3 linked regions of the Homo sapiens genome follow. The protein of the gene in region 3 purifies or fractionates together with the protein of the main gene of each other region. This does not show direct contact. Each region holds a gene or a part of one and is shown on either strand. Other genes may lie near its edges. The genes, in order: TUBA8, ACADSB and SLC67A2.

Region 1 (2,373 bases), on a different chromosome or scaffold from region 3:
TGCCCGGACTTTTTTTTTTTTTTTTTTTTTGTGAAACGGAGTGTCGCTCTGTCACCAAGGCTGGAGTGCAGTGGCGCGATCTAGGCTCACTGCAAGCTCCACCTCCTGGGTTCACGCCATTCTCCTGCCTCAGCCTCCCGAGTAACTGGGACTACAGGCGCCTGCTACCACACCCGGCTAATTTTTTGTATTTTTAGTAGAGACGGGGTTTCACCGTGTTAGCCAGGATGGTCTTGATCTCCTAACCTTGTGATCTGCCCGTCTCGGCTGGGATTACAGGCAGGAGCCACCGCGCCTGGCCTCCAACCTAAAGTTAGTTTTAATGGATATTTTACACTTCTTTGTACAGCATGATTTTGTGGCCATTTTAATTTTAGAGTTAACCAAATTATTCCAGTTGCCAGAGGAGTATGATGCCTCTCTCTAACAAAAAGCTGTGTTCTCCCAATTTATTTTGAAAACTTAAAATATCTATCCTGCACATCTTAATCAATTTGGAGTAATAAGATACTTTTATAGTTGTTCTATGATTGCTATTTTCCATTGCCATTAACCAGGAGTAAGCAAAAACCAGCAAGCCGTGTGGCTGGTGGTAACCAAGTGCCCGCAGTCTGGAAAATGCCAGGCTCAGAGAGTCAGTGGGGAGATACAAAATAGCGAGGGTAGACCCTGGGGCCCCAGGACCAGGAATGCTGAATGGTAGAAGTCACCCCTCTGAGCTGGACCGGCAGGCAAGCAGCCTGGCTGTGCACATGAACAGCTCAGCCACTCCACCCATGGTCTTTTGTCAGATTCTGCCATCATAACAGCTACCACATTCACATTAACTACTGCCCTGTAGTCAGGATTTCTTTTTTTATTTTTTATTGTATTTTTCCCCTGAGATGGAGTCTTGCTCTGTTGCCCGGGCTGGAGTGCAGTGGTGCAATCTTGGCTCACTGCAAACTTTGCCTCCCGGGTTCAAGTGATTCTCCTGCCTTAGCCTCCCAGGTAGCTGGGATTACAGGCATGCACCACCACGCCTGGCTAATTTTTGTATTTTTAGTAGAGATGGGGTTTCACCATGTTGGCCAGGCTGGTCTCGAACTCCTGACCTCAGGTGATCCACCTGCCTCAGCCTCTCAAAGCATTGGGATTACAGGCGTGAGCCACCAAGCCTGGCCCCTAGTCATGCTTTCAATCATTCAGAGGTTTTACTGGTACCTATTGTGTGTCAGGGTTTGTCTCAGTTGCTGGAGGTGAAGAGATGAGCATGCCTCAGTTTTCTTGGCGGGAGTTACAAGTGTGAGGCACCAGCTGCGTGCTGGCCTCATAGCTGCCCTGCATGGGTCTGAGGCTTTGACCTGGCTGTTCTGCTGAGTGAGGAGTGTAGCATTCCTTTTCACTGCTATCCTTCTAGCTACATATATAATTTCCCCCCAAGACTATGCCTATTTTTTATGTGACAGTTCTAATCATCCTGGCAAAACCAGTCAAGGTCTTCCAAAAAATGAAATTCTTTTTTCTTTTTCAAATGGAAACAAACAACCAGCTAGTAGGAGAATGAATGGGGAAAAAAGAGAATGAATGAGAGACATGGTGGGTGATGGGGAAATTAACAAAGCGGAAATGTCCCCTCATTCTCTCTCCTTAAAGCAGAAGCTCTGGAGTTATGTCCTGAAGGATCATTATGGTAGCATTAGCATAAGCTAAGAAAAGTATGTTCCCTGGAGAGGATGCTGCTAAACTTCATCTTCTTGCATTCTCTCCAACAGTACTTGTCCCCACTTGACTCAGGTCAAGAGATGTTAGCACTTAGAGGAGAACAGGTTGGCCCAGGCACAAGGTTTATGGCAGTCGGCTCAGTTCTAGCAATGTATGTGATGTGGCCAAATTCATATACATTGCCTTTCCCTTCCCCACTTTGCCCCTCTCCCAGTATCACCTCCACCTCCAAGATGCCACCTGTGCCTAAGAGGAATGACGGCTGCTGTGGGTCCAGTGGCTGCCTGGCTACCCATGTTGCCACACAGCTGGCTGCCATTCCCACACCAGCCCCTCAGGAGGATGTGCATTTTAAAGCTATGGATTTAAGAGACTGGCGATTAAAATGTGGTGGTCTCAGTGGGAGAGGTGGCTGAGGACATCACTATAGTTCTCATAAGTAATGTCACGGTTTGCCACATTAGACTTGTCCCAGTTTCCCATGGTTCCTGGGGTTGGCTTTGGTTTGGGACGTGTGTTGGGAAGAAGAGAGATTTCCAGGATAGCAGCACCACTGTAAGACGGGTCTGGGCTGAGCCTGGGAGACCTGCCATGCTGCCAGAACTTGGCAAGACCTTCAACAACCTTCTTGGATTGGAGACCCTGCTTTTCTTCTAAGAAGCCCCAATT
Region 2 (3,661 bases), on a different chromosome or scaffold from region 3:
GGCATGAGAAACATTTCAGTTTGTAGTAAACATCTGTGCCTGTTATTTGCAGGAAATTGTTTATAAATGTTAATGTTTGTATTCTGGCTCACTAAGTTAACTGTTGTTTCTTTCATTGGCAAACATTTAGTATGGACCTAATCACCCTCTAAAATTTCAGGGTGGTAGTAATTGGTGCTTCAAATATTCTTCATTACTTTGTAGCTAACATTTTTTAATGCCTGGAAGCCATATGAAAAATCAAAATTTTCTTAACTCAAGCAAATAAAGAATATATTCAAAGTTTTGCTGTGCCAGGATTTCATTTAAGCTCAATTTTGATCAAAAGAGAGTTGAAATAATTATTAAATATAACAGTCAAGTTTTTAAACCTAACTTTGTTATACTTTACTATTTAAATCTTGAAAATCATGAAGACTTACATGAACTTTGAAGTTTTTCTAGGAAAAGAGGATTTAACAATACTTATAGTGTCACATTTCATTTTAGATTACTCATTTTAAAGTATTTAAAAGACGTGAATGTAAATTTCCTTTGGGGTGTATTTTGAGTCTGTCAGTGTTGTGTATCTAGGCAGGACTTTGAGGTTGAGGTGCTTGCTTTTTTGAAATCATAATTCTCTAACTTGGGCCTGACTGTTACAGGGCCTCCAACACCAAGTGGCTCACGTGGCCACCCAGCTGGAAGCTGCAAGATTACTAACATACAATGCTGCTAGGCTTTTAGAAGCTGGAAAGCCATTCATAAAAGAAGCGTCAATGGCCAAATACTATGCATCAGAGGTAAAAAAAAAAAAAAAAAAAAAAAAGGAAAAAGTAATTCAGCCTTTTTTTTTTCAGATATATACTTATTAACATTTTCTCTTGGGAATGTTGATTGTACTTTGGTTGTTTTTCAAGTTAAGATAACATGGACTTTTATTTCTTATAATAGAAAAGCAAAAAAGGAAAACTGCCATAGGAAAACACTTGAATTCTGTGAGGTCTCAATGTTTCGTTGAGTAGCCCAGCTCAGCTAGACCACCCATCTCAAACTGCCATAGGAAAACCTTCAGTTCTGTGAGGTCTCCATGTTTCGTGAGTAGCCCAGCTCAGATAGACCACCCATCTCAAATCCATGGCTGAGCCTCCTCTGAATGAGGGTGTCATGCCTATGGTGTCAAGTTCGGGCAAAGTGAATGCCGTGGAAGATGATGGGTCCATCATGTGAACAAATCAGATTTAAAACACCAAGAAAAGATTGTCTAAAACTTTCTACTCATACATTTGCTTTCTAGAGCTAACACATTAGACTGAGGCTAGAGAATTTAGCCAAATCACTGGGCAGCTGTTTCGTAGCCTCAGCAGTATCTTATTCATTCCATGGCTTTAAATTCTCATTTAACCTCTCCAGCCCATAAATTAAATATCCTACCTCAACTTCTTTCTGAATTCCAGACTAACATGTCCAACTTCTGCTTCACCATCAGAACCTGAGCGTCATCTTGGCACCCTGCTTTCCCTCACCCCCCACATTGAGTCCAGCATCATTTCCTATGATTCTACCCCTAAAAGATTCCTTAAATGGTGTGTTTGTCTCCCTCTCCACTGCCACCTCTGTACTTCAGTCACCTCACTGCCCTCCTGGTCCCTGGTGCTTCCTCCCATCCAGCCTCTCTCCTTTTTCAAAGTGGCAGTGAGGCCATGTCACCTTCCAGCTTTAACCCTTCAGTGGCTTCTCACAACAAATGGAGCTCTATCTGTACTAGATTCCAATTGCTGCTATAACAAATTACCAAAAAGTCGGGGACCTAAAACAACGCAGTTTCATTTTCTGTCACTTCTAGAGGTCAGAAATCTGAAATGGGTCTCACTGGAATACAGGGGCTGCCTTTCTGTGGTTCTGGCAGACAGTTGTTTCCAGCTTCTAGGGGCTGCTCACATTCCTTGACTCGTAGCCCCTTCCTCCATCTTCAAAGCCAACAATGTGGCATGTTCAGATCTCTCTCTGACTCTGCTTCCTGTCTCCATGGTCACGTCACCTTCCATGACTAACTCTCCTGCCTCCTCCTTTTCCTTATAAGGATCCCTGTGATTATATCACAGCCACCCAGATAATTCAGGGTAATCTCTCCATCTCGTGTCCTTACCCACATCTGCAGAGTCCCTATTGCCATGGAAGGCAGCATATTCACAGCTCTGAGGGCTAGGATGTGGACGTCCTTGAGGGGCCATTCTGCAGGGTCTCTCGCTCCTCCATTCTCTTTTCACATTTCACCCCGATCCCAGCCCACTGGCTGTCTCAGGGGCTGGAAGTTGAAGAGCTCATTCTCCCCTTGGAGGATTTCGACGTGTTGGTCCTCAGCTTGAAATGTCCCTTAGCTCGTCCGTTAGGCCCCCAGTAAACATTTCCTGAATAAATGATATCTCTCAGCATGCAGATTCATGTGAACAATGCTCTAATTTCTTAAGAAAATGGGGATTCTGTGAATTAATAGGATGTTTTACAGAAATGGTATGGAGAATGGGACTGAAGAGACAATGCTAGTTTAGAAGATAACTTTAGTCCTTCCAGTGCCACTAACAGTAAATCCATGTTGCTGAAAATGTTACCCAGAAGTGTTTATCATGTATAAGTTATGTGGTTTCAGTGTGTGATTTGCACTTGCTTTTGGTAGATTGCAGGACAAACAACGAGTAAATGTATCGAGTGGATGGGGGGAGTAGGCTACACCAAAGATTACCCTGTGGAGAAATACTTCCGAGATGCAAAGATTGGTAAATAGATTTTTTTTTTTTACATTTTATTTTGTTTTATTTGCCTCTGTAGGTATTTTGGCTGTTTTATTTGTCGTTTTTTTCCTAGGTAAAAGCAATTTTAATTTCTTCAGTATATGTTTGGTGGCTCTATTTATGTGGCTGGATTTTTTTCTTACCTCGTCCTTCAAAAAAAATTGTTCTATATTTTTAAAAAATATCAAATTGCCTTTTTAAATGCCTCAACAGGCTTTTTAGTAAAACTGCCACAAATAACAGTCTGAGCTTATGCATCAATTGTTGAAGAATCAAAATCTTCAACTTTTGTTTACACCTTTAGTCAGTTTAATACTGATCCTGGACATCGAGAAACCAAATGGAAAATTGTCATCTCTTAGTCAAAATTACTGTGAAATAGTACCATATTCAGGGGACATGAAGTGATGTGACTAGTAACTGTTTTATAGCAAGCGCAGAGGTGATGTTTATAGAGCTATTTCTTGTCTTAACCATGCGCCAACTCCTCATTGTTCCTTCTGCTTCCTTTTGCTTAAGGTACGATATATGAAGGAGCTTCCAACATCCAGTTGAACACCATTGCAAAGCATATCGATGCAGAATACTGACGTCTATAGGAGTGGGACCCCTCCCTGGTGTCACTGCTGTAAAATTTTAAACGGTTGTGTCTTGTTGGGAGTAAGTGCCTTGCGTGGGAATAAACTTCCACAGCATTCGAATATTTTAATGAAGCCCTTAGTCAGGGTCCTGGTGTTGGCCTTTTTGGTTTTCTCTTTTCAGGCTGTTTAACTTAGGCACAGGAGATCCACTTTTAAACTTGGGAAATAAGCACCTGTATTTTTTTCCAAAACTGTTTTTAAAGCTGTATACGCATACATATATATATTTTTACTCTGTCTTACTCTGTC
Region 3 (3,041 bases):
TGCAAACACAAGCATTCTGTTGATCAACGGAAATATTTTGATGTGCCATTTCTTGTCTAAACAAGTTTCATATACAGCACCGAGGGGGCCACGAGAGGCAGAGGCCCAGACAGAAGGTGAACATAGCCTTGCAGGGAGACATATGCCAGGCAGGATGACCATTGGGATTGCATCAAGTATTAATCAGTTACTTAAGGGCTTCCTGTCAGACAGTTGAAGTTCACATTCCTTTTACTTTTCTTAATTAGTCCACTAGGATGGTATGCCTGTTTTCAACTTAACACATGCATACTTGTAAATATTTTAGTATGCTACAGTAATTTGTCATATCTTTAATATTTATTGTTTGTAAAGCAGTAAACATTTCTGTATTTTAGAAGTCATGGAGTAAAATCAAATATTTATGATAAATAATTGGAAGTATGTTTTAGTTTGAAGATTGTCCTTTTTCCTATCTTGCTGCAAGGAAAAATGGACTTCTGATTAGGTTTTACAATTGTGAACTTTTATGTAAATGTTAAGTGCTTTCGAGGAGACCAAACTATTATTAATATATAAAATGGCCTTGCCCTTAAGGAGCAAATTAAATCTCATGGAGATTAGACTCAAAAGGCAATAAATAATCGAGGGTTTATGCAATGAAATAGAATTTCAGAAGAGTTTGGATCTCAAAGATTGTCCTTCACTCTCAGAAACAGGCAAGTTTCTTAAAAGCCCTTATAGTCGTGTTTTTATTTTAAAAATCGTAGCACTTTATTTTTGAAGTTTAAAAAGCCCATAAACTTAATGAGTCTTTATAATCAGACACATGGAAATATAGAAAACCAAAGACTGATCTTAGAATATAGAGTAGAGAGACATGTTTGTTATTCTCCACTAGTGACTTTAGTATTTTGTTATGTGATGTTTTTTAGGTGCACCTTTTCTCATGACTCCTTTTACTTTATCTAATGTCTTCCTCTTTAAAGTGTGACCCAGAGACCAGTAGCATCAGCATCACCTGAGACCTGTGAACACTGAAGCTCCAGCTCAGACATGTTGGGGACCATTTTAATAAGATACCTAGCTGATTTTTTGCACAGCAAACTTTGAAAACCCCTGGTCTAAGGGGTAGTATTTGTATCACTTATGGAATATAATCTCAGGGAAATTAAATCTGCTCAATTGACATTTGTGGTGTTTCATTTTTTAAATTCTCTTGAGTAACTTCTGTAGCCCTTTCCAGTGTGTCAGGTTGAGCCACATGAAGTTGCTATTTTTGTAAGTCAAAAATATCTTCATAGGGTGCAACTCACTATTCTATGGAATCTTATTTTAGGAGTATTGAACCTTCCTGAAATGTCTTTGAAGGAAGTGTCACCCTTTCCAACACTCTGCCAGCCATAACTGCTTGGGAACAGGTCTCCAGGATTTGGGTTCCATAGAGCAGAAGGTAGGCCTCTGCCCTCATGTCTAGAGGGATGAATAACATTCTGAAAAGGTACAGGGTGTGTCTAGTCACAGGAGTCACCTGCAAGGCTCCAAACTCAGGCTGGATGGCCCCTTGGGGAGTGAATTCTGCAAGAGTTGCACCTGGGGCCAACAGAAGGAGCTGGAATCACTGATTCTGTATCCTGGCTACATGCCTTAGACCACAGGAACCAGACTCTGAAGCACCACAGATGTTTCTGTGAACATCTGGAGTTGGGAATCACTGAGTTAGATCAAGAATGGATTCGGCTGCCATGCTCGGGTTGAGATTGTATTGACGGATGAAGGGGAATGACGGAAGAATTCCTGCGGTAAAGTGCTGTGAAGACACTCCTGTTTTAGAAAGAGCTCTCTAGCCGCAGCAAGGAGGATTAACTGGAGGCCCAAGGAGTAGTCTGGACTTTGGGGCAGTAACTTTAGGGGGGCCCTGAGGGAGAGCTGGTCGCGAGGACAGGGACAGCAGGCAGAGGTTGTGGCCCACAGGGCAATCGCAGGAGAGGTTGTGAATAATTCCCAGGTGATGAGTGTGCAGCTTTGAGGAATTTCAAAGGGTTGCTTGGCGTCTTTTCCTGAAGACACTTCTATAAGGTATTTAGAAATCTATCAGGAGTGAGAATCAGTCCAGTCAGAAAATTTTAGGCATTTGGGCAACTGCATTCAGAAAACAGCTATTTATTTGGAATGCATAATAAAAGCCATGAGACTGAATCTCCATGCCTCTTTGCCCCCTAGTAGCCTTCAAGAAGTCTCTAAAACAGGGTTACCACAGATTTAGCCAGGATGATGTGTAGCAGCTTTTCTTGGAACAGGTTGATGGATTAAAATAACTTTTTTTCAGCTCTAATGTTTTTTTCTTGAATTTGCCAGTCACATGATAATTTTCTTCAAAAATAAAACTTTATAATTGTAATGAGGAACTGTCATTTATTCTTATAAGTTGTATTTTTAGAAGTCACTGATGTGTCTTGCTACATATTTCAATTCAGGATCCAGAAGTGCTTTGAAAAATGTCATCTCCAGTATGCTAGAACACATCTTAATATTAAAAACAAGGCTTTGGCTTTTAAAACCATTATGCAGATACCAAATATATATGTAATCTGACATTTATACTGAAGGCCAGTAAGTAGAGGACAGTTGATCCTTGAACAACACAGGGGTTAGGAGTGCCAAGCCCCCAAAACGGTAGAAAATTTGAGTGTAACTTTTGACTCTCTAAAAATTTACTACTAATAGCTTACTGTTGACATGAAGCCCTACCAACAATATTAATAGTCGACTGACATGTATTTTGTGTGTTACATATATACTGTATTTTTACAATGAAGTAAGCTAGAGAAAAAATGTTAAGAAAAAGAAAAATAATATTATTAAGTGGAAATGGAATCATAAGGGTCTTCATCCTTGCCACCTTCATTTTGAGTAGGCTGAGGGGGAGGAGGAGAAGAAGGGATTGATCTTGCTGTCTTAGGGGTGGCAGAGATGGAAGAAAATCCCCGTTTAAGTGGACCTGTATAGTTCAACTCTGTGTTGCTGAAGGGTCAACTGTACTTTTAAGGTAACATCTCACA

What was found.
Region 1: the proteins of SLC67A2 (region 3) and TUBA8 purify together in Homo sapiens (affinity purification with mass spectrometry; one large-scale study listed by BioGRID and IntAct). This does not show direct contact.
Region 2: the proteins of SLC67A2 (region 3) and ACADSB purify together in Homo sapiens (affinity purification with mass spectrometry; one large-scale study listed by BioGRID and IntAct). This does not show direct contact.

What each region holds. Positions count from the first base shown.
Region 1 is NC_000022.11:18,127,684-18,130,056, forward strand, and holds part of TUBA8 (tubulin alpha-8 chain), read left to right. Parts: intron 1-2,373.
Region 2 is NC_000010.11:123,050,405-123,054,065, forward strand, and holds part of ACADSB (short/branched chain specific acyl-CoA dehydrogenase, mitochondrial isoform 1 precursor), read left to right. Parts: intron 1-644; coding exon 645-782; intron 783-2,656; coding exon 2,657-2,756; intron 2,757-3,290; coding exon 3,291-3,361; 3' UTR 3,362-3,661. UniProt on the Homo sapiens protein: Short and branched chain specific acyl-CoA dehydrogenase that catalyzes the removal of one hydrogen from C-2 and C-3 of the fatty acyl-CoA thioester, resulting in the formation of trans-2-enoyl-CoA.
Region 3 is NC_000002.12:102,713,969-102,717,009, reverse strand, and holds the end of SLC67A2 (major facilitator superfamily domain-containing protein 9), read left to right. Parts: 3' UTR 1-2,380; downstream 2,381-3,041.